Homo sapiens: one gene and its partners. The protein of the gene in region 3 purifies or fractionates together with the protein of the main gene of each other region. This does not show direct contact. Each region holds a gene or a part of one and is shown on either strand. Other genes may lie near its edges.

The links.
Region 1: the proteins of OS9 (region 3) and LONP2 purify together in Homo sapiens (affinity purification with mass spectrometry; 3 studies listed by BioGRID and IntAct, with this or other methods). This does not show direct contact.
Region 2: the proteins of OS9 (region 3) and CERCAM purify together in Homo sapiens (affinity purification with mass spectrometry; 3 studies listed by BioGRID and IntAct, with this or other methods). This does not show direct contact.
Region 4: the proteins of OS9 (region 3) and SERPINA1 purify together in Homo sapiens (affinity purification with western blotting; 4 studies listed by BioGRID). This does not show direct contact.

What each region holds. Positions count from the first base shown.
Region 1 is NC_000016.10:48,345,277-48,352,299, reverse strand, and holds part of LONP2 (lon protease homolog 2, peroxisomal), read right to left. Parts: exon of another isoform or gene 5,389-7,023; intron 4,794-5,388; coding exon 4,586-4,793; intron 4,201-4,585; coding exon 4,010-4,200; intron 720-4,009; coding exon 498-719; 3' UTR 1-497. UniProt on the Homo sapiens protein: ATP-dependent serine protease that mediates the selective degradation of misfolded and unassembled polypeptides in the peroxisomal matrix.
Region 2 is NC_000009.12:128,415,872-128,423,858, reverse strand, and holds the start of CERCAM (inactive glycosyltransferase 25 family member 3 isoform a precursor), read right to left. Parts: upstream 3,003-7,987; 5' UTR 2,982-3,002; coding exon 2,785-2,981; intron 2,656-2,784; exon of another isoform or gene 2,348-2,655; intron 2,337-2,347; exon of another isoform or gene 1,073-2,336; intron 992-1,072; coding exon 881-991; intron 714-880; coding exon 596-713; intron 1-595. UniProt on the Homo sapiens protein: Probable cell adhesion protein involved in leukocyte transmigration across the blood-brain barrier. Does not express any beta-galactosyltransferase activity in vitro.
Region 3 is NC_000012.12:57,689,510-57,697,132, reverse strand, and holds the start of OS9 (protein OS-9 isoform 1 precursor), read right to left. Parts: upstream 3,002-7,623; 5' UTR 2,972-3,001; coding exon 2,810-2,971; intron 2,384-2,809; coding exon 2,207-2,383; intron 1,354-2,206; coding exon 1,290-1,353; intron 1,172-1,289; coding exon 1,095-1,171; intron 859-1,094; coding exon 760-858; intron 1-759. UniProt on the Homo sapiens protein: Lectin component of the HRD1 complex, which functions in endoplasmic reticulum (ER) quality control and ER-associated degradation (ERAD).
Region 4 is NC_000014.9:94,385,603-94,393,499, forward strand, and holds the start of SERPINA1 (alpha-1-antitrypsin precursor), read right to left. Parts: upstream 3,001-7,897; 5' UTR 2,958-3,000; intron 1-2,957.

The DNA of each region.
Region 1 (7,023 bases), on a different chromosome or scaffold from region 3:
TAATTGATTGGTTTCAGGATCCAATAAACTCTACAGGTAAATCCACTAAGGTAATGGTCTATACCGGTGGTTCCTGAACTTGAGTGTGCAGCAGAATTACCTGGAAGGCTTCTTAAAACACAGATTTCTGTCCCCACCTCCCAGGATTTGATTCAGGCGGCCTGCTGTGGAGCCTGAGAATGTACATTTCTAACAAGTTACCAGGTACTACAGATGCTTCTGTTCTGGAGACTGTGCTGAGAACCACTATGCTATATCTTTCCAGGGACAGTAAGGATCCCACTAAAAAGACAAGAATTCGATTTTTATCAGTTTACTAAATCAACATCTTATATTTCTATACTAAACACTAGCCACTACTTGAGGTTTATTACTGTTGTGATTATGTTTATAAAACAGGGACATCTTGCATACCCCTAATGGTGTGAATAAAATCAACTGTGTCAGTACCTTTGAGCACTTCATAACTTAAAATTCTAAAAAATTGAGATTTGGACCTACAGTTTGCTATTTAACAGACCAGGTCTGGTCTTGACAGTAAAGCCACCATCAAAAGCTGCATTAAGAACCTCATCCAGGCAGCTTGCTGTGACAAAACTTAAATCCTGTCGTACGTTGCCTGGGATTCCCTCAAGGTCTTTTTCATTTCTCCGAGGAATAATGACTTGCTTCAGTCCCGCTCTGTGTGCCGCCAGCACTTTGTCTTTAATTCCACCCACCTGTAAGGAGAGAAAAAAGTTTTTAGGGTTAATGATCACCCTCAAGCTGAAAGAAACCCTGACCCAGCTTTCTTTCACTGAATTTAACCACTACTATTTTAAAACATCCAAATCATCTTCCGTTTTGTTATAGCATGAGCTAGGAAAGCCAGGAAAAAGGATAAGTAGTAACCTTTTTTTAATGTTTCAATTGGTGTTATATTAAAGACTCTGATGAGGGGGATTCTAAATTGTTGATAGGTATGAGTTCCTCTTCTGTCAATGATTGTTTTTATAAATGCTGTCAAAGTAAATTGGCATTCAGGTGTAATCACAACCGTCTAGTCTTTAGGTTGATCTGAAAAAGCAGCACGTGATTCTGACCATGAGCGCCGCTCCTGCAGAGCTTAGCTGTGTGCTGGGGTTACTTCCCTCTCTACAGGTTTAAAGCCAGAACCTCCATGCTGGTTAATGAAGAAAATGTATCCCTAAACTAGGCTCCTATGGTGGCTTTCAAACATGTCTACAATGGTCCCCCTGCTTGAATGTGGGCCAGGCTTTGTGACTCGGTAAGAAACAGAGTGTGGTGGGAGTGATGCTGTATGATCTCCACGGCTGAGTCACAAAAAACGAGAGCTGCTGCCTGAATCTCTCTTGATCACCTGCCCTGGAGGTGGCCAGTCATAATGTCTGAGGTCACTCAAGCAGCCTATGGGCAAGTCCATCAGGTGAGGAACTGGGGCCTCCTGCCACTAGATGGGACCAATTTGCCAGTCACATGAGTCAACCACCATGGAAGCAGTTTCTCCAGCCTGTCAGCCTTCATGTGACTGCAGCCTGGCTGGAACCTAGACTGTAAGGCCAGAGACCCTGGGCCACAAGAACCCAGCTCAGCCTCTCCTGAATTCCTGGCCCACAGGAACTTGAAGAGTATGGAGTATTCTTGCTTTGGGGTAATGTGTTGCATCTGCTCCAATTAAGACTGGCTGGCTGCTCCAGGCCTTCCCGCCCCACTGGCATCTTCTTTCAAGGTTTTGTTCATGCTGCTGAAGTACTCCTTCAAAGTACCTTCTTCAAAAGAGTGTAAGATGAACTGATTCCTTGCATGTTTGAAAATATTTTACTTTCACACTTGATTGATACTAAGGCCATGTATACAAGACTAGATGTAAAACATTTTCCCTCACAGCTTTCATTACTATTTTTTTTTTTTTTGAGACAGTCTTACTCTGTCACCCAAGCTAGAGTGCAGTGGCACAATCTTGGCTCACTGCAACTTTCTGCCTCCCAGGTTCAAGCGATTCTCCTGCCTCAGCCTCCTGAGTAGCTGGGATTACAGGCATGCGCCACCACATCCGGATAATTTTTTTGTATTTTTAGTAGAGACAGGGTTTCACCATGTTGGCCAGGCTGGTCTCAAACTCCTAACCTCAAGTGATACGCCCACCTTGGCCTCCCAAAGTGTTGGAGTTACAGGCGTGAGCCACCACACCCAGCCTCCTTACTATTTTTAAAACAATTTTTGTAGAGATATATTTCCCAGGCTGGTCTTGAACTCCTGGACTTGAGCTATCCTCCTGTTTAGCCTCCCAAAGTGCTGGGATTACAGACGTCAGCTGCCACGCCTGGCCCATTTTCCCTCATAGTTTTGAAGGTACTGCACATCCAGTGTCAGTGCTGAGGCCGCTTTATCCTCAGTAATCTGAAAAGTCAAGGGGATGAAATGTTTTTCCTGGTTAGTAATGGTCCTTTCGATCTCAAGATGCCTTAACTTCTAGGAAATGTTCAGTTATTTCTTGGATAATTTGTTCCATTCCATTTTCCTGTTTGTTAGAACTCCTTTTAGATGTTGGAGTTCTAACAACAAATTGTTTTTCACTATAGTTTTTTCCTGAATAATTCTTTGACCACTTTCAAATCCCAAAGCCCCGTCTTGTCCTCTGTTCTCAAAGGAGGTTTTCTCCAGCTTTCACAGGCCTTTCTTTCAAGTGCTGCTGCTTTCCATCCTGCCTCTTGTAATGGTCTGGAGCTGAAGGTGTACCCCAGGCCGCTGTGGCTGTCTCTCCTGAGGCTGCAGAAGCCTTTACTTGGGCTACGATTTGCTCTGAGAGGGGACCAAGTAGAAAACCCATTTGTTCTATGGAGGTTCTAAAAATAGAAAAAATTATCCGGGCGTGGTGGCGCATGCTTGTAATCCCAGCTAGTTGAGAGACTGAGGCAGGAGAATCACTTCAACTTGGGAGGCAGAGGTTGCAGTGAGCCAAGATTGTGCCACTGTACTCCAACCTGGGTAAGAGAGCCGGACTCCATCTCGATAGAAAAAAGAAAAAAAGACTATTTCTTTTTTTTTTTCCTCATCTTGCTATGAACCTGCCAAAATCTTGTTGTGGACTAAAATTGTAGTCTAGTCTGTTGTAGACTAATACTCAACTAACAACTTTAAATACTCTCAAGTTCTGTACATTTTATCACACTATTTTTATAAGCAGTTTAGGATCTGGAGCCTCAAGACCCCACATGTATAGAACCTTTTCAAAATGTAGTCATTAGATATGGTTAATCTTTATTAGAGTTTCCATTCTATACTAGCAAAGTTTTCTGCAGGGGGACAGGAGGTCTCAAAGAAACTTCAAATTTAAGAAATGGGCTTAAAGCTTAAAAACAACTACTATCCCATTTTGCACATGTGCTATATCTTTAACAATTTGTCAAGTAGAACAAGGCCTCAAATTTTCATGTAACTGCCAATATTTCTGATGACCACACTAATATTTTTTTCCCTTAGCAAATCTTAGAATGGGAAACGTGGGCTGAATGTGGTGGCTCACGCCTGTAATCCCAGCACTTTGGGAGGTGGAGATGAGAGGACTGCATGAGACCTGGAGTTTGAGACAAGCCTGGACAACACAGAGAGACCCTGTCTCTACGCAAAATAAAATAAATTAGCTGAGCATGGTGGCGTGCTCCTATAGTCCCAGCTATTCGGGAGATAGACAGGAGGATCGCTTGAGCCCAGGACTTGGTGGCTATAGTGAGCTACAGTCACACCACTGCACTCCAGCCTGGGCAACAGAGTGAGACCTGTCTATTTCAAAAAAAAAAAAAAAAAAAAAAGGAAAATGTGAAAAATTGTCAGTTTTTCTTTTATTTGATCAAAATTTTAAAATATGAATTAGTTACAGGCATAAAAATATAATATATACTTAAAACCAAGGTTTTCATAGAAAGAAGGCAAACCCGTATTTAAAAATAATATTAATTTTCAAAAATTAAATAAAAAATAACCATATAAATTGTTTTTTCATACTTACTGGAAGAACAAGACCTCTCAGTGTAATTTCTCCAGTCATGGCTACATCTGAACGTACCAGCCGCCCACTAAAAAGTGAGGCGAGACAGGTTACTATGGTAACTCCAGCAGATGGTCCATCTTTTGTGACAGCTCCAGCTGGGAAGTGCAGATGGATGTCTGTGTTGTCAAGAAGATCAAAACTTCCAAAAGCTTTAAAAAGGAAAAAGGGACTTTAATGTAGAAAAATTAAACCTGTTTTCTTTTTCTCCTAAAAAAAAAGTCACAAACAAAAATGAATGTTTTGGGTAAATGAATTCTTCAAAATATTGGTGGACAGTACAATTTGGGTGAGGGTGTGGAAGAACAGTTCCATTCTACTCTAAGTCGTATTAAAACAAAATAAACCTTTTGAATTAGTTTCTAGTTCAGGCACTAGTCAAATAGTCCTGAAATGGGAACTAGGATTTCCACAGGGGTTCAAAACGGTGTGTACTTTGCTAGATGTGTAACTGGCAGTCTCGAGCTCATGCCAGTCTCCGCCATGGAAGGTACCGCCTCCTGGGTCACGCCTGCCTGGCCGGGTGCAGGCTCCTACCATTGGTCAGCTGGTACTTCTTTGCGTTGCTGCGGAGCCAGCTGATAGCGAGGTGGGCGGACTCCTTCATCACGTCCCCGAGCTGGCCGGTCAGAGTTAACTGGCCCTCGCCATCCATTCGACTCGCCTCCACGAACATGATTTCTCCACCTAAGGGAGTCCAAGCCAAACCTATTGCTACTCCTGGCTGACTCAAACGCTGAGATACCTTGAAAGAAGAAGAATGATCAGAGTTGGGTTGGCAAATGCTAAAGGTGACTGATACCACACAATCCTGCAAGAGTCGGCTGACTCCACAGAAGACTTCAGCCACTTACCTCAAAGTCCTTGTTACCTAACATGATTCTGCGTCACATTCAGCACTTACTCTCTGGCTTTCTGCCAGAAGAAAGACCTAAACTTCCTCTTTGACATTTATCAGAGGCAATTTTACCTTAAAATATATGTAAATAACTTTGCTTTTTATGAGCCAGATCTAGCTACACATGCCCTAGTTTTCAAGGAATAAACCCAATAGTTTTATCTAAGTATCTTTATTGGGCTGCAAATATATATATATTTTGAGACAGTCTCACTCCATTGCCCAGGCTTGAAGTACAGTGACACAATTTCAGCTCACTGAAAACTCTGCCTCCTGGCTTCAAGTGATTCTCCTGCCTCTGCCTCCCAAGTGGCTGGTACTATGGGCGCACACAGGCCACCACACCCGCTAATTTTTGTATTTTTTGTAGAGATGTGGTCTCACCATGTTGGCCAGACTGGTCTCAAACTCCTGACCTCAAGTGATCTGCCTGCCTCAGCCTCCCAAAGTGCTGGGATTACAGGTGTGAGCCACCACACCCAGCCTATTGGGCTGCATATTTATATATACTTCATAACCTAGCTTCATTTTAGGTAATCATGAATTTGTTTCAAAAAGTAGAAACCCTCTTACTAGCAGACCTTTAAGAAGAGTGAGCTTGGCCATGCAGAGTGGCTCATGCCTGTAATCCTAGCACTTTGGGAGGCTGAGACGACAGGATCGCTTGAGCCCAGGAGTTCGATAGAGACCAGTGTGGGCAACATGGTGAGACCCTCTTATTTTTTTTGAAAAGAAAAGTGAGAAGGGTTATATTAGAAACTCTAGATTTTACTTCTCCACCGCTTACCTTTAACTTTCTCTATTACTGCTGCAGAGACTATACAATACTACATAATAAACATCCTGGGTTCCTTCCCATGGGATGAGAGAGGTCCACTGTACTGCCTGCCATCTTAAATTGAACATGTTGTCACCTGAGACTAGGAGCATAGTTGATGGGCCATAGGTTAACACATCCAAGTTATGAAAACACTAAAAAGTAACAGTGGAAAATCAGTAATGTTAACTCTCATTACACCCTTTGAGCTTCAAAATTTCCTATCCAATAGAAGTTACTCATGTTAGAGGAACTGAACACAATAGGTCAACTAAGCACTAATCCAAACAGGAGATTTTTCTACTGAGAGTTGACCGTCTCACTAAGGAACAGCACTATACAGCTTGACTTTCTGGGTATGGGGCTGGGTTGCTTCTTTTTCTAAGGGGCTTGGACAATGAAATTCCTGATTGTAAAAATTATTCCAAAATTATGTGGCATCCATTGAAGCTATTGGGCACTTCTTTTCCTCTTTTTTTTTTTTTTTTTTTTGAGACATGAGTCTCACTCTGTCGCCTGGGCTGGAGTGCAATGGCACAATCTTGGCTCAATGCAACCTCCGCCTCCTGGGTTCAAGCAGTTCTCCTGCCTCAGGCTCCGAGTAGCTGGGATTACAGGCATGTATCACCACACCCAGCTAATTTTTGTATTTTTAATAGAGACAGTGTTTCGCCATGTTGGCCAGGCTGGTCTCAAACTCCTGACTTCAGGTGATCTGCCAGCCTCGGCCTCCCAAAGTGCTGGGATTACAGGCGTGAGCCTCTGCGTCTGGCCGAGCACTTATTTTCAGTAGTAAACATACATTAAAAAAAATTAATCCTAATTAACTTCATTTAACAGGTTAGAGATTTGAGAGGCCAAACTCCAGCATCAAGCTGACAGCATGTACCTCAGGTCACACTTTCCTCGAGCTTTGCCACTTGCCCTGTTCTATACTAACTTGAGGCGAAAGACACAAACGATCTATATGTAAGAGATCAGTACTACTTAAGGAAAATCATGAAACAGTTATTTATAAAACTGTTTACAAGGTTTGTTTTTTCTAATATAAAATCAATTCTCTATACCTGAATGACATACATCTAATTTGTGTGGGAATCTGTCACCCAAATTAGACTTCATTCAGGCTCCTTTCTAGGGTTGGGTGAATGAATCGTGTTTAACACAAAAAGTCATTTGGTACAATTTTGTTAACTCTACCAAGAATAATCCCTTTCTTATATTTGAATCCTCACAATTCATTTGTCAAAATAATACCAA
Region 2 (7,987 bases), on a different chromosome or scaffold from region 3:
CTAGTTCAGAGATCCAGGCTCAATTTATACCCTGGGCTCTAGCCCAGAAATCGAGGCTCAGTAAAGTGTATACAACGGGATCTATCTGAGGGGTCCAGGCTTAGTACCTAGTCTGAGCTTTTAACATAGGGATCCAATCTGAACATCTGGTCTGGGCTCTGGCCCAGATAGCCTGCCGAAGGATCCAGCCTTCGGGTGGGTCAGTCACATTCAGATTTCTTTTTCTTTTTTTTTTTTTTTTGAGACTGAGTTTCACTCTTGTCACCCAGGCTGGAATGCAGTGGCATGATTTCAGCTCAGTGCAACCTCTACCTCCCAGGTTCATGCCATTCTCATGCCTCAGCCTCCCAAGCAGCTGGAATTACAGGCGCCTGCGACCACGCCCAGCTAATTATTGTATTTTTAGTAGAGATGGGGTATCACCATGTTGGCCAGGCTGGTCTCGAACTTCTGACCTCAGGTGATCCACCTGCCTTGGCCTCCCAAAGTGCTAGGATTATAGGCGTGAGCCACTGCACCCAGCCTATACCCAGATTTCTATCAGGGACGGATACTACCGCCTTTCAGAAGCCCGATTCTAGCCAGACTTCCTCACCAGGATATAGTCGGCCCCCCAGTTCCTGGCAAAGGTGAGGGCTTCCTGCTTCAGCTCCATCAGAAACTGGTGCCTTTCTTTGGTCCAGTGCTTGGGACCCTCTTCATCTGGGTAGAACCTGAGGGGATAGAGGTGAGATGTTCCCATGGGGTACATGCCCCTCCCTCTCTGCAGGGCAGTGGACAGAGCCCTGGCTTGGAGGCTGTGGCTCTGGGCTGTCCCTTTTCCTCTCTGGGCTGCAGCTGTTCTCCATCTTCCCCAGCACCCTTCCCCTCAGATCACCACCTGGGCTCGCCCTCAGGCCTCCAGACCACAGCAGCATAGTCATCGCCCACAGCCGCCAGCCACTCCTGCAGCATCTCTGTGGTGTTGTCCACATTGTGGTCCGTGGCACACCTGGGGACGGGAAGAAAAAAGGCTGAGGGGGCACAGCCACAGGATTGAACCCCAAGGCAGCCTTGACCCCAAAGCACTAACACCTTTGAGGTCGAGCTCTCCTTGGAACAGTGAAGGGTAGGTGTGCTACAGCAGAGAGGCTGGAGGCAGCACAGCCAGGTCCCCACCACAGTTCTGTGACCTGCTGTGTGACCTCAGGCAAGTCCCATCTTTCTCTGGGCTTCACGTCCTCCCTCTATAACTTAAGCTGTCCTGCTTATGTCATGGACAAAGATAAGAGAAGAATAATGCATTTTTTTTGAGATGGAATCTTGCTCTGTCGCCCAGGCTGTAGTGCAGTGGTATGATCTCGACTCACTGCAACCTCCGCCTCCCGGGTTCAAGTGATTCTCCTGCCTCAGCCTCCTGAGTACCTGGGATTACAGGTGTGCACCACCATGCCCGGCTAATTTTTGTTTGTTTAGTAGAGATGGGGTTTCACCATGTTAGCCAGGCTGGTCTTGAACTCCTCACCTCAGGTGATCTGCCCACTTCGGCCTCCCAAAGTGCTGAAATTACAGGCGTGAGCCACCACACCTGGCCAACGAATGCATTTTGAAAGATGAAAAGTACCTCGACTTTAAGGATCACACCTGGTGCATTCCCTGGTTACCTTCGTTAGGTGGGCAGATACCTACCTATGTGACCTGTGGCTGTGTGACCACAGGCCAGCCCCTGTCCCTCTCTGAATGGGGACTAGACAGAAGAGCTGCTGCTTTCCTCCACCCCCAGGTTGTAATAAGGACCAAACCATGCTCTAAGCGTCCCTAAGAATGCAGATGGGTCCAAGCTCTGCTGTCATGGGGCACAGCCTCCCCTCTCCTGGGGAAGGGGCCCCCATAACAGAGGTGGGGGTTTAGCCAAGTGCCCAGGTTTTGGGTGATGCTGCCCCTTTAAGCCAATTCCCCAGAAATGAAGACTACGTGTCAAGTCTTACAGGGGTGGGAACTAACAAACTCCCAAACTGTGGTAATTGTGGGCGGCCTCCCCAGGCCAGGGCTCCACCCCCCCAGCCCAACTGTGGTGTGTTGAAGAGGGTGGCTTGTCATTTTTCTCAGTTTACCCCCAACCTCAGCCAGGGACTCCTCCCTGTTCTGGTGTCTACAGACCAGGGGTTGTGGCCTTCGATCCCAGTGCCCTGGGGGTACAGAGATGCCAGAGGGGAGAGGCTCCAGGAAGGGGGACTGCCCTTGGCTGACAGGATCCCGCCCCTCTACCAAGATCTACCAAGAGAGCTGGCCCCAGCACGGGGGCGGTGGGGGGGCCGGTCTGACTCCCCTGCACAGCCCGGAGCCCAGTGCTGATGGCACCCCCAACCTGTGCCCGGAAGCCTCCAGCGTGGTCGATCCCTGCCACGTTGGGCCCCAGTGGACTTCAGAGGTTCCTGTCTGCTCCTCTTCAAATCCAGCCAACCACAGGTCCCACTGGGGTTGAGCTGGGCCCTGAAGGCTGGGGTGAAAAGGGCTGGCTGGGCCCAACCTACACCCAGGGAAGGCCCCAAGAGGAAGGAGTAGGGGACCAGAAGGAGGGGTGGGTGTCCCGCGTCGGCCTGTGGCCTCAGAGGTCTGTCGTCTCCCAGCAGGGGGCTCGGGGTCCTCTCTGGCGGCTCGGGCTGGCAGGGCCGTCTGTGAGGGGAGGGGCCTGTCTAGGTGGTGTCTGGGCAGGGAGCGAGCAGACAGGGCCGCCGGGGGCGGGGGCCATCTGCGAAGCTGGGGGTTAGGTGCCCACTCGGTGCCAATGCCCGGGTCTCTCACCAGAGGGCCATCCTGGCCCGGGGGTAGTCCAGCCGCTCCAGAGCGCCCAGGTAGTGGGGCAGCGAGTGTTCGGCATTGCGGGCCAGGATGGCAAGGACCACGGCGGGCAGCGGCGACTCCGCAACGCCCGCAGCCTCCAGCCACGGCCCCAGCAGGAGCAGCAGCTGGAGCAGCGGCGCGGCGCGGGCAGCGCGCATGGCGGGCGCTTGGGCGGCTGCAGCGGCCCCCGGAGCTCTCGGGCCGGCCGAGGGGAGGGGGCGGGGCCTGGGGCCCGGGCGGGGCCGAGGCAGACCCGGAGAGGGCGGGGCAGTGCACCCTCAGAGTGGGATCCTGCTCCCCACCCCTGTGCGTGGATGCTCAAGTTTTCTCTCCTTGGCCCGGGGCACCGGAGGGCCAGGGCCCGGGGACCCGCGCCAGCCGCGACCCTGGAGCAGCCCCGCCCGGCTGGACCCCGGAGGGGCGACGGCGGAGGGGCCGGAGGACCGGACAGGGGAGGGGTGCTAGGACGAGTGCGTCGGGGCCGGCCGGGCGTCCGAGAACAGTAGGGGCTCATGGAACCCCTGGGCGTTGAACCCCCGGAATCCGGATTCCCCGGCCCACGCAGCCGACTCTTCGACCTGAGCCGCAGACCCAGAGGGGCGGCGCCCACTCGGCCACCACCTCCCGGGCTTCCCCGGCTCCCGCCCCATCCTCCGCCCCGGGCGCCCTCTGGCGGCCCTGGCGCTAGCTCCGCAGACCAGCCGGGCCACGCGTGGGCCGGAGACCCAGCGTGGGGGGCGCAGAGGGAGTCCCCCTGAGCTGGGCGCGTCCTCCCGCGGCGGTCCGCTCCTTAAGTCCCCTGTGCGTCACCTCCTTGCGTCGGTCGCCAGCACCCGCATTGCTTCGGCCCTTTAAGAGAGCACAGCCAGGCCGGGCGTGGTAGCTCACGCCTGTAATCCCGGCACTTTGGGAGACCGAGGCGGGAGGATCACCTGAGATCAGTTCAAGACCAGCCTGGCCAAGATGGTGAAATCCCATCTGTACTAAAAATACAAAAATTAGCCGGGCGTCGTGGCGGGTGCCTGTACTCCCAGCTACTTGGGAGGCTGAGGCAGGAGAATCGCTTGAACCCGGGAGGCGGAGGTTGCAGTGAGCCGAGATCGCGCCACTGCACTACAGCCTGGATGACAGACCGAGACTCCGTCTCAAAAAGAAAAAAAAAAAAAGAGCACAGCCCTCACAGCCCTCTCTTGGTCTGAGTGTAGAACTAGGGGACACCACGGAGCTGCTCACTGCGACCCGACCCGTCCGTCCTCCAAAGCAGGGGATGTTGGCTCCCCTGGAGCACCGCCGGGGTCCTTAGGACCCTGCTGGGAGGGAAAGAACTCTGCAGCCTCTCGGGAGAGGAGCAGAAAAGGGAGCGGCCTGGCGGCACCACAGATGGGATCGAACTGGGTGTCTGTCACCAACCTCAGACAGGTCCCTTTCCCTCAGGAGCCTCTCGGGTAAAATCGGGCTGATAACGCCACCCATCTGGGAGGGTTTGCAGGGATTCCTCGAGAGAATGAATGCACTGGCAGCTTTTCCCGCGTGGAGGCTTACACACAGGAAGAGCTCCGCCCTGGGGCTGGGAAGACAGGACTGGAGGAGAGGGAGGCTCCCCCTTCACCCTCCCACCGCTGGGAAGATCTCCTTTCCTAGGAACAGCACGGGGTCTCCCTTCAGCCTTTTCCCAGGGTCAGGGAGGGGAGCCAGGGCTGTGCACACTATCTCCACTGCAAGGGGAGGGCTGAAGGTCCATAGAGGAAGGAACTTACCTAGTGCAGGGGCAGCACGTGCGCACTGAACCCTGGAGTCCTGATCTCTAGCCTAGCTCAAAGCCTCCACCAGGATCGGGTGGCAGCTTCCATTTGAGGCCATTTCTAGGCCAGCGGCCCTGCAATGAGAAGCATTCTGGAGAGATGCCAGATTTCTTCTCCCTTGCACGGTAGTCCCCTGCGGGAAGCCACTCCCAGCCCCAGAAGAGGGATTCCCTTTCTAAAGCAAAGCAGTGTTCCCTACTTCACCCACCCCAGAGTCATTCCACAGCCTCTGCCTGTCCTATTGGTCCAAGGGTGCTATGGTCAGAATGTCCGTGACCCTCAAAACTCACATGTTGAAAACCTAATGTTAATGTCAGGGTATTAAGAAGCGGGGCCGGCACGGCGCGGTGGCTCGCGCTTGTAATCCCAGCACTTTGGGAGGCGGAGGCGGGCGGATCACGAGGTCAGGAGATCAAGACCATCCTGGCTAACACGGCGAAACCCTGTCTCTACTAAAAAATAGAAAAAAATAGCCGGGCGTGGTGGCGGGCGCCTGTAGTCCCAGCTACTCAGGAGGCTGAGGCAGGAGAATGGCGTGAACCCAGGAGGCGGAGCTTGTAGCGAGCCGAGATCGCGCCACTGCACTCCAGCCTGGGCGACGGAGCGAGACTTCTGTCTCAAAAAAAAAAAAACAAAAAACAAAAAACAAAAAAAAAAACAGGCGGGGCCTTTGGGAGTTGATTGGGTGGGCTGCCCCACCTGAATGCGGCTAGTGCCCTTATAAAAGAGGCCTGGGGGCCGGATGCGGTGGCTCACGCCTGTAATCCCAACACTTTGGGAGGCTGAGGGGGGTGGATCATGAGGTCAAGAGATCAAGACCATCCTGGCCAACATAGTGAAACCCCATCTTTACTAAAAATACAAAAATCAGCTGGGTGTGGTGTCGCGTGCCTGTAGTCCCAGCTACTCAGGAGGCTGAGGCAAGAGAATCGCTTGAACCCAGGAGGCAGAGGTTGCAGTGAGCCAAGATCATGCCACTGTACTCTAGCCTGGCAACAGAGCGAGACTCCGTCTCAAAAAGAAAAAAGAGGCCTGGGGAGCTTGTCAACCCCTTCTGCCACATGAAGACACAGCTAGAAGGCCCCAGGTATGAGGAACGGGCCCTTACCAGACACCAAATCTGCTGACGCCTTGACCTTGGACCTCCCAACCCCCCAGAACTATTAGCAATAAATTTCTTTTTTTTTTTTGGCCAGGGGTTGGGGGGTGGTTCAAGCAATTCTCCTGCTTCAGTCTCCTGAGTAGCTGGGATTACAGCCACACACCACTATGCTTGGCTAATTTTTTGTATTTTTAGTAGAGATGGGTTTTCACTACGTTGGTCAGGCTGGTCTCGAATTCCTGACCTCAGGTGATCCAGCTGCCTCAGCCTCCCAAAATGCTGGGATTACAGGTGTGAGCCACTGCACCCGGCTGATAAATTTCTGTTGTTTATACATTATGCAGTCTAAGATATGTTGTTATAGCAGCCCAAACGGACTAAGACAGGGGGCTTCCTGATTCTTCCCTGGCCTCAAGTCCTCCTCTTCCCCCAAGTCCTCCCACCCTCCCCAGGAGTCCAGCCTGTTACTAACTTTCTTGCCTCAGAGTTTTCCCATCACACCTGCCTGGAAAACCCAATAGCCATCTTGTTTTGGGGCAGGTTGGGGCAACTGCAAACTCAGGGTCTCTACCCTCACTTGGGCTCTCACCCAGCCCAAGAATCCTGTTTCCCTGTGTCCCCTGCCCACTCCCCTCAGGGCATTTCAAATGCTTCTAGTCATTGAGGCACGGTGGCTCATGCCTGTAATCCCAGGACTTCGGGAGGCTGAGGTGGGCAGATCACTTGAGGCCAGGAGTTCGAGACCAGCCTAGGAAACACAGTGAAACCCTGTCTCTATTAAAAATACAAAAAAAGGCCGGGGCAGTGGCTCACACCTGTAATCCCAGCACTTTGGGAGGCTGAGGCAAGTGGATCACCTGAGGTCGGCAGCTCAAGACCAGCCTGACCAACATGAAGAAACCCCGTCTGTACTAAAAACACAAAATTAGCTGGGCATGGTGGCGTGTGTCTGTAATCCCAGCTACTCAGGAGGCTGAGGCAGGAGAATCACTTGAACCCAGGGGGGCAGAGGTTGCAGTGAGCCGAGATCGCGCCATTGCATTCCAGCCTGGGCAACAAAGGCGAAACTCCGTCTCAAAAAAAAAAAAATAGTAATAATACAAAAAAAAATTAGCCAGGTGTGGTGGCACATGCCTGTAGCCCCAGCCACTTGGGATTCTGAGGCAGAAGAATCACTTGAACCTAGGAGGTGGGAGTTGCAGTGACCTGAGATCACGCCACTGCACTACAGCCTGGGTGACAGAGTGAGATTCTGTCTCAACAAAACAAAACAAAACAAAACAAAACAAAGCCTCCAGTCTTCTCAAGCCCCCATTCCACCGCCCCTCTCCCCCAGCAAAGATCTCTCTACTACTTTTTGGAGAAAATAGAAGCCATTACCTGGGAACTCTCATTTCTAGCCTCCAAACCTTCCACCTCTGCCCTCAGCCAGCCTCAGGAGGCACACCCCTCCTCAACAGAACGGCCCCTGTGAAACCGCCTTTGCAAATTTGTAACTCAGGAAATTATGACAGCGGAACAAATCAGACCTAACTGATTCTGTCTTGCTTCTAACCCTTAAGCTGTCCTTGTTCACTCCTGGGCGTAGGCTGAACTAACTTTGGGAAGGAATTCAGTTCATGGTTTGACTCTGAAACAAAATTTATAACAGCCCTTTCCCAAAAAGACCCTTCTTCTTGCCTGGGGTCCAGTCTGCCTTTGCAGGACTGGCAAAGTAGCTATAAGATTAGAAATTACAATTTAGGGGTCATGCAGCCTTTGGGTCCTCCCCAAATTGCTCCTGGGGTAACATCACTATTGTAAAACCTAAAGTCAGTGCTTGAGATATTCTGCAGACCCTGCACCCGATGGATCAGCTGACACCAGCCAGACCAGTAATCTGGCCCAACCAGTTCTACCATCGCACCCAGGAACAGAAGACATTAAGAATACCTAACTTCCACCTCCTATGATTCCATCTCCAATCTGACCAATCAGCATTTTCCACTTTCCAAGCCCCTACCTGCCAAATTATATTTAAGAACTCTGATCCCCACATGACTGGGGAGAACCGATTTAAGTAATAATAAAACTCCGGTCTCCCGCACAGCCGGCTCTGTGTGAATTACTCTTTCTCCTTTGTAATTCCCCTGTCTTTTTTTTTTTTTTTTTTTTTTTTGAGACGGAGTCTCGCTCTGTCACCCAGGCTGGAGTGCAGTGGCGTGATCTCGGCTCACTGCAAGCTCCGCCTCCCGGGTTCACACCATTCTCCTGCCTCAGC
Region 3 (7,623 bases):
CTTACCAGCACACAACTGCAGGTACAAATCTGCATTATGGAAAGATAACTCTGGCAGGTGTCATGTAATTCTTTACAGGTGTGTATATTTGTGAATACATGAGAATCACCCAAGGAACTTTTTGCATTCTATATTTGCCTGCCTCCACTCAGCTAAGGACCACTAGATGAGAAGCACTTGTAAAGAAGCTGTTTGCAGGGATGCAGGCGAGAGTGAAGGTACCGACCACAAGAAAGCATAGGAGAGTTTTGAGAGATATCTAGTGCTGGGATTACAGGCGTGAGCCACCGTGCCCGGCCTGGAAATAATGTGGGTTTTTTTTTTTCTTTTCTTTTTTGAGACAGAGTCTCACTCTGTCACCCAGGTTGGAGCACAGTGGCACGACCTCGGCTCACTGCAACGTCCGCCTCCCAGGTTCAAGCAATTCTCCTGTCTCAGCCTCCCGAGTAGCTGGGCCTATAGGCACCCGCTACCACGCCCGGCTAATTTTTGTATTTTTAGTAGAGATGGGGTTTCACCATATTGGTCAGGCTGGTCTTGAACTCCTGACCTCAGGTGATCTGCCCGCCTCGGCCTCCCAAAGTGCTGGGATTACAGGCATAAGCCACTGCGCCCGGCTGGAAATATGTTTTAAACTTTGGATTTAGGGTCTGGGAGGGGACCCCCCCCGCCCCCGCCCCGACTATAAGATGCAACCCTCTTCCCTTAGAATCTGAACTGTCCCTGTGGGAGTGTCAACTTCCCTCTCTCAAGACTCACCCGAACCTCGGCCTCCCGGGGCCTCCCATTAAGGTCGCACTTGGACCCATTGCCATAGGTCTGGCTGTGGTAGCGTTTAAGACGATGCTGCTTGGAGGCCTGGAGAAGACATGAGGCAGGAATGGGGGACATGAGAAAGATAGCAAAGAGGAAGGATGGCACTGCGTCCCCAAAGAGACAAAAGAATGGCCTGTGCCCCCAGGCCCCAGGAAACTTTGTCCTAATGGCCACCAAGCCCCAAGAAACAGATCAGCTAATCTTGACCCTCCCCTTCTTGTCAGGGCTCTCAGCCGGTGGCCAGAACCCTTTCTTCCTGAATCCCACACTCTTGCCACCTTGGCTGTTTCATCATCCCAGTCGAAGGCTGATTGGTAGTAGCCGAGATAGAGGACTTCACCTTTGATCTCTGAATCTGCAAGGGAAGCCACAGTGAAGCACTGTTACTCTTAAGAGGAGGAGGAGGAGGAGGGAACTGGGGAACTTCCATGATATGACACTAAGGGCTTAAGGAAAATATAGGAGTGAGTTACCTTCCATGTGGTATTGCTGGATGTGGCGTCCATAACAGAATTCATATGTCCACCAGTCCTTTGTCTGACAATTAAAAAATAAACAATCAGGGGGATGGAGTGCAGACATCTTTTCTTGGAACCAGAGTCTCCTGGCTCCAAGACACATAACCTCTCATCTACTTACACACTCAATTCTCTTCCCTTCACTTCCACTCTCAATTCTCCAGACTTTCAGTAAGGAGGGAGGGCTGCTTTCCTTCTGTGACTTGGAGAGATATCTCTAAAGTCTGTTTTCCACTTGTGGTCTTTCCATTCCTCCCTTTTAAAAGATTTTTTAAATCCTTATTTGCCCTCCATAAAGATAAGAAATTATGGTATCCCTGAAGCAATTATATTAGGGAAACATAGAAGAACCCAAAATTAAATATTAATTGAACTTCTTGAACATTCCTGGCACTGTTCTGGCCACTGGGAATACAACTGTGAACAAGATTAATTCTTTGACCTCATGGAGTTTACACTCTAATGCGGGGAATCAGACCGAAAATAAACAAACTGATTCAGTAAATATGATTTCAGATCATGAAAAGTGCTACGATGAAAATAAAACAGGATACTGGAGCAGAGTGATAGGGCAGGGGGTGACTTTAGCAAGTAGGCTTAAGGAAGTACTCCTCCTACCCCACGCAGACCCTCAATCTTGCTTTAGCCCTTTTCTGAGATCTTCTATCCTAACCTGCTCCTACGTTCAGCAAAGTGTCATCAGTGGTTGCAGGATTCTTTGCTTCTTTCCTGTCCGTGTAATCTGTCTACTCCTCCAGTGGTCTTCTTAACCACTACAGGTCCCCTAGATCCTGCCTCATTCAGTGGACTCCAGTTCTTGGATGAACTGCTAGTTTCCAAGCCCTCATTCTATCTAACCCAGTCCCTTTCACCTTCAGCAAGCAGGGAGCATCTCTCATTGGGCTCAACAACTCAGGGATCCCAGGCCCTTGGTAAGCAGGTGTTTCCTCCTCCCTTTCACGCTGGAAGTGAATAGCTCCAGCTGGCAGGCGACACTCATAGCGCTGTTTGTACTTAGAGGAGACAATCACCACGTCCGAAGATTGGCTCTGGGAAAGAAGGGAGGGTCGGGGGGCAAGGAAGCAAAGAAAGGCTGGGATCAGGGAGAACAACGAAATCCCTCTTCAAACCCTGGGGAAGAGATCAGTCGAAGACAGAATAAGCCATAAGCCCTCCAGCTGTATTTAGTGGGTGAGAGGAGAGGGCGCTCCCATTTCTCCACGGGGGCGGAGTCCGGGTGTTTCGATCATAAACTGAGACCTGAAGGTTGACAGCGGGAAGCCCCACCTCTCCCAATTCCTGGCCCCCAGAGAATTGGTCTCAGTCTGCGACCCCCAGGGGTCACCGTAAAAGCAATACCTACTCTTCCCGATTCCCCGTAGGCTCCAGCCCCAGACTCCGGAGCTGCCCTTCTTCCTCTATCTCTTACCCGCTTCCTCTTCTGCCCAGACCCTCGCCCCTTATACGCCTCTCACCTGCCCTCCCATGACAGGCAACGGCAGGATCTCGATCCCATAACGCATCTCACTCAGCTCCTCCAGGTTCAGGCTCCCGACACCGCCGGTCAGACTTGCGGGTAACAGGAGTCCCAGAAGCAGCAGTCCTAACAAACTGGACAGCAGCGTTTCCGCCGCCATCTTTCGTTCCCCTTCTTATGCAGAGAATCTGTTTCCGCCCTAAGCCAGGCAGCGGCCTCAACACGCCCATCGGCGCCACATGATTTTATTGGCTGTACGTTCTATCCCTCCCACGTACCCTATTCCTATTTGTAAACGTGGCTCCAAGGTCCTGGGGAGGTGGATCACGACGATTAGAAATATCAATCGCTGTCCGTGATTGGTCAGAGACCAGCCAATCATCGACAAGATCAAACCCCTCCTCGTTCCCCAATTTCAGAGGCGTGGTCTATGCGCTTGGTCCTTTTAAGTTTGCCCTCTGTCTTCGCCCAGCTGTCATGCGCATCTCATTGCTTTTTCAGACGTCTCTTGCATTATATCCTGCCCACCGCCGGGCGGAGTATTGAGGCAGATAGGTAGCGTGCGCAGTGCCGGTGAAAGTTATTAAATGCTTGTTGCAAAACAAACAATTATTATACGGACGCTTACCTCTTTTCATATATACATATTGCTTTGAGGCAATCAGAAAATTTGTGTCAAAACCTTCCTATACGATCCTGCAGTTGACCTCCAGTAAAATGACCTCCAGTAAAAATCCTAGAGAAATAATGCGGGCAGCCAGACGTGGTGGCACGCACCTGTGGTATCAGCTACTCCGGAGGCTGAGGCAGGAGGATCTCCTGAGCCCAGGAGTTCAAGTGCAGCCTGCGCAACACAGCGAAACCCCGTCTCAAATAAGTACGTACATACATACATACATACATACATACATACATACATACATACATGCATACATGGGCTTCCAGTTAAGGTGAAATTATGTATTACTCTCCAGGCCGTAAGAAAGGGAAAGGAGACAACAACAGCAACATTTTGGAAGCTGGAAATCAAACAGAAGAATGTTAACTGGTTTAGCAAACTTGAGAATATTTATTACGAAACAAAGGTAAACAAGAGGCTGATTATACCTTTGGAAAACCCTCTCTGGGGAATCTCACCAGCCAAAACGAAAAATCCCAAAGATACCCTTATCAGAGTTCTCTTAATGATATAGATAACTAGAATGAATTCCACATGTAACACTTTGGCCTACGTGCCCCAGCCCTCATTCCACTTTCCAATCAGCTTTTTAGTGTTCTTACTCTTCAAAATAAATAGCCAGAGATCATTAGACATTTAAGGAAGGACTTTAATATACAAGTAAGAAACAAACAAGAAGGGAAAAGCAAATGAGAGGAAACATAAATTGCAAGGGAGGGGAAAAAACACTAAAAATAAAAAATTTAAAAATAGGCCGGGCACGGTGGCTTACGCCTGTAATCCCAAAACTGTGGGAGTCCGAGACGGGCGGATCACTTGAGGTCAGGAGCTCAAGACCAGCCTGGCTAACGTGGTGAAACCCCGTATCTACTAAAAATACGAAAATTAGCTGGGCATGGTGGCACGCGCCTATAGTTCCAGCTACTCAGGAGGCTGAGGCAGAAGAATTGATTGAACCTGGGAGGCGGAAGTTGCAGTGAGCTGAGATTGCGGCACTGCATTCCAGCCTGGGCCACAGAGCTAGACTCCGTCTGAAACAACAAAGCATTTAAAAATAATCCATCATCAGACTTCTCAAAGAGATATTATAGAGCATTCATAAAATAACAACAGGAAACTACTTGAGAGTAACTACTATTCGGATAAGCAAAAAGAGCTCTTGGAAACTAAAACCATGTTACAGAAATAAAAATTCTATAAAAAGGCTGGGGGATAAAGTTGAAGAAGATCAAATTTGTTCTGCTTTAGGAGAAAACATAAAAATAAAGGATCAGTCCAGAAGGTCTGGACTAAATAAGAGTTCTAAATTAGAGTTCCAGAAAGAGAACAGAGAATCAGAAGAGATCATCAAAAAAACTATTTAAAAGGACTATCCCAAACTGAAGAACAGTCTCCAAATTGAACAGGCACCCTAAGTATCCAGAACAACAAATCAAACCCACACCAAGACACATCATTATAGAATCTCAGAGTACTGGACACAGAGAAAAAAATTCTAAAAGCTTCCAGAGAGAAAGAACAAGTTGCATATACAGACAAAAAAAATCAGAACATGTGACTTCATGTTGTTGCTTTGTTAATACATTTTTTAAAAATCAGTATAACATTAGGATTAAGAATCAGAACACCATTGCTACCCAAAGCAATCTATAGATTCAATGCAATCCCTATCAAAATACCAATGACATTCTTAACAGAAATAGAAAAAACAACCCTAAGAGACCTAGAATGGAACCACAAAAGACCTAGAATAGCCAAAGCTATCCTGAGCAAAAAGAACAAAACTGGAGGAATCACATTACCTGACTTCAAATTATACTGCAGAGCTATAATAATCAAAACAGCATGGTACTGGCATAAAAACAGACACAGACCAATGGAATGGAATCCAGAATCCAGAAACAAATCCATATATCTGTATTGAACTCATTTTTGACAAAGGTGCCAAGAACAGACACTGGGGGAAAGACAGTTTCTTCAATAAATGATACAGGGAAAACTGGATATCCCTATGCAGAAGAATAAAACTTGACCCCTATCTCTTACCATATATAAAAATCAAATCAAAATGGCTTAAAGACTTAAATCTGGCTGGGCGCAATGGCTCATGCCTGTAATCCCAGCACTTTGGGAGGCCGAGGTGGGTGGATCACGAGGTCAGGAGATTGAGACCATCCTGGCTAACACGGTGAAACCCTGTCGCTACTAAAAATACAAAACATTAGCCAGGTGTGGTGGCAGGCACCTGTAGTCCCAGCTATCCGGGAGGCTGAGGCAGGAGAATGGCATGAACCTGGGAGGCCGAGCTTGCAGTGAGCCGAGATCGCGCCACTGCACTCCAGCCTGGGTGACAGAGCGAGACTCTGTCTCAAAAAAAAAAAAAAAAAAAAAAAAAAAAAAAAGACTTAAATCTATGACCTGAAACTATTAAACTACTACAAGAAAACATTGAGGAGCCTCTCCAGGACATTGGCCTGGGCAAAATTTCTTGAGATACCCCACAAGCACAGGTAACCAAAGCAAAAATGGACAAACAGGATCACATCAAGTTAAAAAGCTTCTGCACAGCAAAGAAAACAACAAAGTGAAGAGACAAGCCACAGAATGGGAGAAAATATTTGCAAACTACTTGTCTGACAAGGGAGTAATAACCAGAATATATAAGGAGCACAAACAAAAGAAAAAAAAATCTAATAATCTGATTTAAAAATGGGCAAAAGATCTGAATAGACATTTCTCAAAAGAAGACATACAAATGGCAAACAAGTGTATGAAAAGGTACTCAACATAATTGATCATCAGAGAAATGCAAATCAAAACTACAATGAGATATCATCTTACCCCAGTTTAAATGGCTTTTATCCAAAAGACAGGCAATAACAAATGTTGGAGAGGATGTGGAGAAAATGGAACCCTCGTACACTGTTGGTGTGAATGTAAATTAGTACAACCACTATGGAGAACAGTTTGGAATTTCTTCAAAAAACTAAAAATAGAGCTACCATACAATCCAGCAATCCCACTGATGGGTATATACCCAAAAGAAAGGAAATCAGTATATCGAAATGATATCTGTACTCCCATTTTTGTTGCAGCACCATTCACAATAGCTAAAATTTGGAAGCAAACTAAGTGTCCATCAACAGATGGATTTAAAAAAATGTAGTACGTATACACATAGGAGTACTTACTATTCAGCCATGAAAAAGAATGAGATCCTGTAACTCGCAACAACGTGGATGAAACTGGAGGTCATTATGTCATATGAAATAAGCCAGGCACAGAAAGACAAACTTAGCATGTTCTCACTTATTTGTGAGAGCTAAAAACCAAAGCAGTTGAACTCACGGAGATAGAGAGTAGAAGGATGGTTACCAAAGGCTGGGAAGAGTAGTGTGGGGTTGAGGAGAAGTGGGGATGGCTAATGGGTATAAAACATAGAAATAATGAAAAAGACCTAGTATGTGATAGCATAACAGGGTGACTATAGTCAATAATAATTTAATTGTACATTTTAAAATAACTAAAAGGGTATAATCGGATTGTTTGTAACACAAAGGATAAATTCTTGAGGGGATGGATACTCCATTTTTCATGATGTGATTATTACTTATTGCATGTCTGTATCAGAGTATCTCATGTACCCCATAAATATATACATATATACACCACTGTGTGCCCACACAAAAATAAAATTTTTAATTGTATTTAATTGATTCCTTATCAGAACAGCATTGGGCTTACAAACTCATCAACATTGGGAGGAATGAGTGTGGTGGCTCACTCCTCTAATCCCAGCACTTTGGGAGGCCAAGATGGGAGGATCACTTGAGCCCAAGAGTTTGAGACCAGCCAGGGCAACATAGGGAGACTGCATCTTTACAAAAAAAAATTTAAAAAAAATAGTAGGGCATGGTAGCGAGTGCCTGTGATCCCAGCTTCTTGGGAGGCTGAGGTGGGAGTATTGCTTGAGCCCAGGAGGTCAAGGCTGCAGTCAGCCATGATCACGCCACTGCACACCAGCCTGGGTGACAGAGTGAGACCCTGTCTCTTAAAAAAGAAAAAATACATTGGGAGCTAGAAAATAATATAAAATATCTTCAAATTTTTTAGGGAAATTATTTCCAACCTAT
Region 4 (7,897 bases), on a different chromosome or scaffold from region 3:
AGGCGAGAGCCCCTGCACCCAGCCAGGATTCTTGGTTAGAATGGCATCTGGGTTCAATGTAGCAAAACAGATGGAGAATTCCCATGGCTAGGCATGAGACAGGTGCCCTCCTAGACAGGGGAATTCTGGGCTCAAAGGAGGTGGAGAGGCTGGTGCAGGGAGGGTGGCGAGGGGGTGACAGCTGGGAGGAGCACATTCCCCCACACCCATCCATCTTTCCTGGTGTCACATCACCTACTCTGGTTTCCTCCTTTCACAGTGAAGAGTTTGAAGCCCAGAGAGGGTCAGGGCCTTGTTGAGGCTATACAGCAAGTCAGTGACAAAGCTGGAACAAGTCTTGGCTTTCCCAGCACTCAGATCATGAACTGAGACAGCTGTGTCCTCAGATCTCAGATGATGAATGTCAGAATTGGGCTGTGACATTGGTCTCAAGCATCATGTTGGGTTCATTATGCCTCCCAAGCTGTTCCTTATAACATCAGGACTCCAAAACCTGCTCTCTCCTGGCCCTTCTATCAGAGGCAGCACCCTGCACTCCTAAAAGCTAGTGCCTGGGAGGGCGACTGGAGAGGAGAAAGTCGCCATCTGGCCAAGTACCCCATGGTGTACGGACACTGAGGCCAAGCTTTAAACCAAAAGAATGAAGGCTTCATGGTGACATTTCTGGGATCGGGGCAGGTGGGAGCACTCTTTGCGGGGCCAGGGACAGGGAAGCGAGCCACTCCCTGCCTAATCTCACACCATTTCTACCCGGGAGCATAAAATAAGGGACCAAGAGCAACCCGGCAGGGTGCAGGGAAGAGAATCTCGCCTATGGTCAAACAACCTGTTGAACTGGGCAATAAATAAACCCAAGTGTGACCAGGCCCTGTCACTTACTGGCAGGGGGCCTGGGGTAAATGACTTCACTTCTTTGAGCACTAGCTTCATAGCTGTACAATGGAGAAAAGAATCCTTTGGACAGGGATGAGGAATAACTGACGTAATGCATGAGTGGGCACCAGGTGAGGAAGCCCTCCCTGTACCTGCACACAGGTTGAGCTCCTGCCCGAGAGATGGTAGATTTCTTCCCGGAGAGCCTGCTGCACTCCCCAGGACCATTTCAGCAGGAAGGGGCTCCTGCTCAGCAGTGAACAGCATCTGAGTTTGGCAAATTTTCCATTAAATTATCCAACTGTTTACTGCCTGCCAGCTGCCTAACCCTATGCTAAGCAAACATCAGCCTCAGCGTCACCATCATTGCCACACTTACTAACACCTGGTGTTTTACAGGCACCGTATCATCTAATCTGTCCTCAAAGCTTACCCTATAAGGTGCAAATTATTAGCCCTATTTTATAGATAGAAAAATTGAGCCCCAAAGAGCATTAAATAACTCACTAAAAATCACAGAGCTACTTGCTTACAAAACTGAGATGTAATCCTAAATGTTTTGTCTGGGATTAAACAGATTTCACTCCAAAACCTGACATTGAATCATCTCTGTGTACAAAGCTGAAGCCAGAAGTCTTGAATCAGAAAACTTCAGAGGCAGCCTGGCTAAATGAAGAGGGGAGCATCAGTCTGTGGCTAAAATTAAAGGCTCTGAGGCCAGATTGCTCCACGTCAACTTGCTATTAGCTGTGTGACCTTGGACAAGTTACTTAACCTCTCTGAACCTCAGTTTCCTGGAGATGAGAAAGGTGGACTTTGTCATAGAGCTATTGTGAAATTAAATACACATAAAATGCCAAGAAGTGCCTGCTGCGCAGCAAGTTCTCGAGAATACCAGTTCTTGCTGCTATTGCTGCAGGTCTTTTAGAGGCGTTCTATAGGAAACTGGCCACCTTGGCCTTGGTCATCTTTTTGACCTGTCTCCAAAACTCAGTGCAGGAAAAATTAAATCCTTCCAACACTTCAGAGATCAAGGTCGGGTGGGGTGAGGGGAGGGGACAGAAGTCAAAGGTTATCATGTTTTGCCCAAGAGAACAGAGAGGTTGAGCAACTGTCTGAAGTCACCGAGCATCAGAGAGGCCTCAAGTCCAGCCCAGGTTTCCTGTTCCCCATCCAGCGCCTGAGACCCAAGAGAAACAGTGACACTAGGGCCAGGTTCAAGAGTTTGGGGACTGGAGCCAGGTGCCTGAGCCCGAATTATGGATGGTGTGTGATTTGGGGCCAGTTATTCACCTCTCTGTCCCCATCTTCCTCATCTGTAAAATGGGAATCACACTAGTAACTGCCTTGGAGGGTTATGAGGCTTAATCACGCACTGAGCTTAGCCGTGGCCTGGTGCAGAGCGATTATTCAGGAATGCCAGCTTGAGCCCTGGGTGACAGTGCCCCTCACAGCTTCCTGTCCTCCACTGGGACAGGAGGGCCCAGAGGTCCACGGTGCATGGGGAGGCCCATTTTGATGTAAGGCTGAGGCCTGGCACAGGTCTGTTCCTGGTCATATCTGGAGGGGATGGAGAATGTGAGCCGGCGTTCCTCCCCACCCCTCTCTGGACCTTAACCTCCTCATCTATAGAAGGGGAGAAAGATGCATGCCCAAGCAGTAGGAGAGGTGGTGAGGCTTATAGGAGACAACAGACAGGAGCCCCCGACAGACAGAGGAGCTGTGCAAACAGAAAGAAATGGCTGCGCTTTGTTGCTGTTGCTGTATCTTGGCTGGTGTCCCCCATCCTGGGGTGCCAGGACTGCAGACCTAGACACCCTCATCCACTTCTGCTTACAGGAACCAGTGTATCCACCAGGAGGTACCGAGGGGGGACCGGGCAGGACTGGGAAACAGGACACAACCCTCATGGCTGCTGTTATTATGAAAATAGGAGCTCAGCTGCAGCCTCTCCATCTGCCCTGCACCTCAGCAGGCGGATACCCACTCCACAACCCCCCTCCTGCCCCAGACCTGCTGCCTGCCTGGGCCATGGGGAGCTCAGAAGCCTCTCCAGAACCTCTCGCAGTGAAAGGCATACTTACGATTCACTGTCCCAGGTCAGTGGTGGTGCCTGAAGCTGAGGAGACAGGGCCCTGTCCTCGTCCGTATTTAAGCAGTGGATCCAGAGGGGCAACGGGGGAGGCTGCTGGTGAATATTAACCAAGGTCACCCCAGTTATCGGAGGAGCAAACAGGGGCTAAGTCCACTGGCTGGGATCTGAGTCGCCCGCCTACGCTGCCCGGACGCTTTGCCTGGGCAGTGTACAGCTTCCACTGCACTTACCGAAAGGAGTCATTGTACCTGGCTCAGAAACCACAGCGTCCTGTGTCCAAGGTGGAGGGGGTGGCGTGAGTCAGACAGTCTCTGGGAGAGTACCACTTAGCTGGCCCTCTGCTCTCACTGCAGAATCCTTAGTGGCTGTTCCACTGGTAGCAAGATCTACCATTTACTGAGTCACCCCAAAATGCCTGATGCTGAAGACTTACTGCCGCCCTGGGAGATCAGAGTGGGTTAGAGCCCATTTGACAGATGAGGAAACAGGCTCAGAGCGGAGAGACCGCTCATCCAAAGTTACCCAGTCAGCCTTAGACACAAACACCCTCTTGATGGTCCCGATGGAAAAATGGAGCATGACTGAGGCAGACACAACCGTCAGGCTGGCATGGGGGGCCGTGAGACAGGGTAGAGGTGGGGAAGCACATCTGTAAAGAAGAGCTGTGCTGCCTCAGGCAGGCCGCTTCACCTCTCTGAACCAGGAACTGTTTCACCTGCATCCCAAAGAGTTGGAAGTTTCATTCCCAAGCATGCTTGTGAAGTGCCTCGGGTGAAGTGCCTGGCACACAGTAGGCTCTTTATGTGGGTCTGCACAGCCCTCTGCTTAGTCTGCCCCCCAGGCTGCTCAGAGCAGGAGGAGGTTCAATTTTGACCAGCCTCAGGCCTGTTTCTGTTTTTGCTCCTGGAAAACCAGTGTGATCCGTATACAGCTTGGAGTTTCTTTGGATACATGGCCCCCACTCTGGGGTTGTTGGAGGCCTTTGGAGACTGCTGGGGGTGGAGGGGAGGGGAGGTACAGGGTTGAGGCTAGTGGGGCCCCACTTGATTGCAATCCCTTTAAAAGCCTAAATCAGATTGCATCGCCCGCTGTGCAACCCGCAAACCTGCTTGGGAGCTGGCGTACGTGCCGTAGATACTTGCAGAGTGAATGGATGAGTGCATTTTTGCCCCTTCTGTCATTCACCAGTCCCATTTATGCCTCCACCTTGGGGCTCTACCAGGCGAGTGACCCACAGGATCCTCCAGCACACACATTCAGACCAGGGAACCCACTTACTGGCTGTGAGGCCTCAGGTGAGTTGTTTAACCGCTCCGAGCCTCAATTTCCCTATCTGTAAAATGGGGATGGTGACGGTATGTACCTTGTTGAGCTGCTGTGAGGATTAAAATGCAACAGTTCAAGGAAAGCTCAGAGACGGGTACTGGGTGTGCCCAGAAAGCCCCTCCTGATGCTGCCCTCCCTCCCCCGTGTCAGGGGCTGGTGTCACTGGGGTGGGGTGGGCCACACTTGAAGAGCTTTCCTCCAGGCAGTCTCTCATTCAGTTACCCTGTGAAGGGAGTAGGTACCACCCTCCTTTCAGGCAGCGGGAAACTGAGCTCAGACTCCCCTCCCCTTCTCTCTGAGCTCCCTTCCCTGCAGCTCCATCCCCTGGCTTCAGGGCCCCTGTCCTTCCCCTGAGCTGGCTGAATGGATATTCCGCTGCTCTACATCCACTCACAGCTCCAGCACTGGGCTGTGGTTGAGGTCGCCTGCCCTCGGTAGCTCCTGGGCATTTCTTCCCCTCTCTGGGCCTTTGTTTTCCCATCTGCACAATGACCCCCACTCTAAGCCCTGCTGTCCCTCCCACCTGTGGAACTGAGTGAGCAGCAGCAGCAATGTCCCACCTTTCCTGCTCTCCTCAAGCTCTCCTCAAGCTCTGTCTCTTCTGGCAGGCACAGGAGAGTGGCCTGAAGGCTGGCAGGAGGTTGCCGCCCCTCCAACCTGGAATTCCTGGCAGCAGCAGCGGCTAGGCCTTCCTCGGAGGCCCGACCCCCTCCTCCTTCTTGGTTCAGCTCAGGACTCTGAGGGTTGCTGCGTGGAGGCAGTGCATGCCCTGGGCACAGTGCCCAGTTCCTGCCCACCCAGGAAGTAGACTTCGGGTGGAGGCAGTAGGCTGGGGAGGGGCGGGGAGCTTGGACAGGAAGGAGCCTTGCTCATTGCCCGGCAGACACAAGACTGGGCCCTCATAAACTCAGACAGCCCGGCATGTCACCTGTTGTACCTGCCCTTTCAGCTCTGTGACCCGGGACAAGTCACCCTCTCCCTTTGAGTTGCCGCAAGAGGTACAGTCACACTGCCCAGAGGATTACTAGAAATGACAGGCCTCGCCCTCCTGGCACAGACCTGGCACCAATAACTGGCAGGTTTCTGGGGCCAGCTGCAGAGGGAAGAGGACTGAGCCACCTATGAAATGCCCAGTGGGCAGCCCCACAGTTGGGCAGGTCTGTGTGCACTGGGGAGGTGTGTGTCATAGGACCTGGCTGGGTGCAGAAGGGATTGCAGTGGGGAGCTGGGGCTTTTGGAGGAGGAATGAAGAAAGCATGGGTGGGAGCAGGTGAGGCAAGTAAGGGGCTCAGAATTTGGGGTCCTGCTCTTTTGGCAGGGCTCTAGGCTCAGCCCCCGCCCTGCTCTGGACATCCATCCTGGGAGGAAGGGCTAGGATAATCTGGAAAAACGCACCAGGACAAAATCCCGGGGGTTGTGGTGGGAGGGGTGGGAGTACTCAGTGGCCATTCACAAGGATACTGTGCCCCCAGGAACCCCAGGACATGAGGGGGAAAGTCTTGTCCACCTGGTTACTTCCACAATTGTCTATTGCAGCATCTGGGCTGATCCCCCCAGAGGAAATGCATCATGGGAAGATCCTGTGAGCTGGTCATGAGTAAGGGGCATCTGGGGGAGGCCCTGCCCCACCACAGGGCCCTGCCTGGAGATGGGAGCCTCGTGGTATGGGCTGGATAGGGATGTGAGAGTCGAGATTTGGGGTCTGCAGCAAGGAATCGGGTAAGGGGGTGAGGTGTGCCAGTGGCCCTGGGCCAAGTAAATCAAGACTGAGTGGCTGGTCAGGAGAACAACAGTGGACTTCATGGGAGCTGAACTCATTGGCAAAGTGCCCCCGGAGAGTGCTGGCCACCCCACAAACACACACACCCCATGCACACCCTCACTATGCACCCTCCTTCCCAGGCACCAGCTTCCTTCTTTGAGAGTCAGTGCAGGTCACTGGTTAAGGCGTGGGTTCGGGATCTAATATCTGGGGCCAAGCCTTAGCTCCATCGCTCTTTTTGTGAGCTCTTAGACAAGCCACTTAACCTCTCTGTGCCTCGGTTTCCTCATCTGTGAGATAGGAAGACTCTAAGAAGAGTCACTTCCATCAGGACTGTGAAGATCGAATGAGATAATAACATTTAAGCACTTCGGGCAGCCTCTGGCATGTGATGGGCCCCAAGTCAATGCTAACCACCAAAGGCCATGACCTTTGGGGATGTGTCCTGGCTCTGAAAAACCATATAGATGGGTCTCAGGGGTCTAAGTGGGGGAACAACTGCTGCGTTTGGCCCCAGATTTGGGGAGCAGCACCTGTTGTTGAGGGACACCTCCTCAGATTCAAACTTCCATTTTTTCCAGAAAAGGCTGTCAATCCCCTCTTTAGGGGCCGTGCTCATTTTGGCTTTCCGAAGGTGAAGGGCCAGGTGCCTTCAGCATCTTTCTGAGCACCTGTGACATGCAGAGGATGTGGGGTGACTGCAGCTAGGTGGACTTGGATCCGGGGGAGGCCCTCAGTTCTCTGAGCCTTGGTTTCCTCATCTATAAAATAGGGATAAAAGTTTCTTTCCCACATAGCTCTTCTGAGGCTTAGATGAGGCGATGCTGGTGGGGTGTTTAACACAGAGCTCTGTTAGCATAATGGACACTTGTGTCTGTCTTCTTATAACTCATTTAATGAATGAATGAAGTTTGCACCATTTTTTCACCTCCTCCAGTCACCTTTCAAATTAGCCAACTTGCAAAACCCCAGCAGACACACTTTCCTTCTGTGTGTAATCTCCTGAGCCACTTCCTGTGTGTTGGGGAGGGGAGGGGGGATTTCTGCATTTTCTGGAACTATGTGGCCTACTCACAGCTTCTTCTTTTTTTTTTTTTTTTTGAGACAGAGTCTCACTCAGTCACCCAGGCTGGAGTACAGTGGCGCAATCTTGGCTTACTGCAAACTCCACCTCTCGAATTCTGGAATTACGAGCGATTCTCGTGCCTCAGCCTCCAGAGTAGCTGGCATTACAGGCATGTGCTACCAATTCCAGTTAATTTTTGTATTTTTAGTAGTGACAGGGTTTCACCATGTTGGCCAGGCTGGTCTCAAACTCCTGGCCTCAAGTTATCTGCCCGCCTCGGCCTCCCAAAGTGCTGGAATTACAGGTGTGAGCCACTGTGCCTGGCCTTTACTCTTTATCCTTACTCAGACAGAGAAAAATAAGGCAAAGCTATACATTATAAGGGGCAACATAGTTAAAAGAAGGAATAAAAATGCATCTATAGCTTCATCCCCTTCTTGTTAAAATTACTAAAACTCATGTTTTATTGCAGCTAACCTTTTCTGAACTTTATTTTAACTTTACTCTTTTGAGGTTATGGGCCTTGATGGTCATTACGGATTGGAAGCTTTTAAGAGACTCAATGTGTCCTATTGAACTATAATTATGATTTGATTTTAGATGGTCAACTTGTCGCATTTTGGTCAATAGGAACCCTTTTAAGTTATCTCTTTATCCCTTTGACAATCTCTGCTGATGTTTCAGCAACACACACTTGCTTTCTGGCAAGGCCACCATGTTCATGTTCCAGGTCTGTCTTCATTTTCTCTTGCCCCAAGACATGGCACTGGGGTAT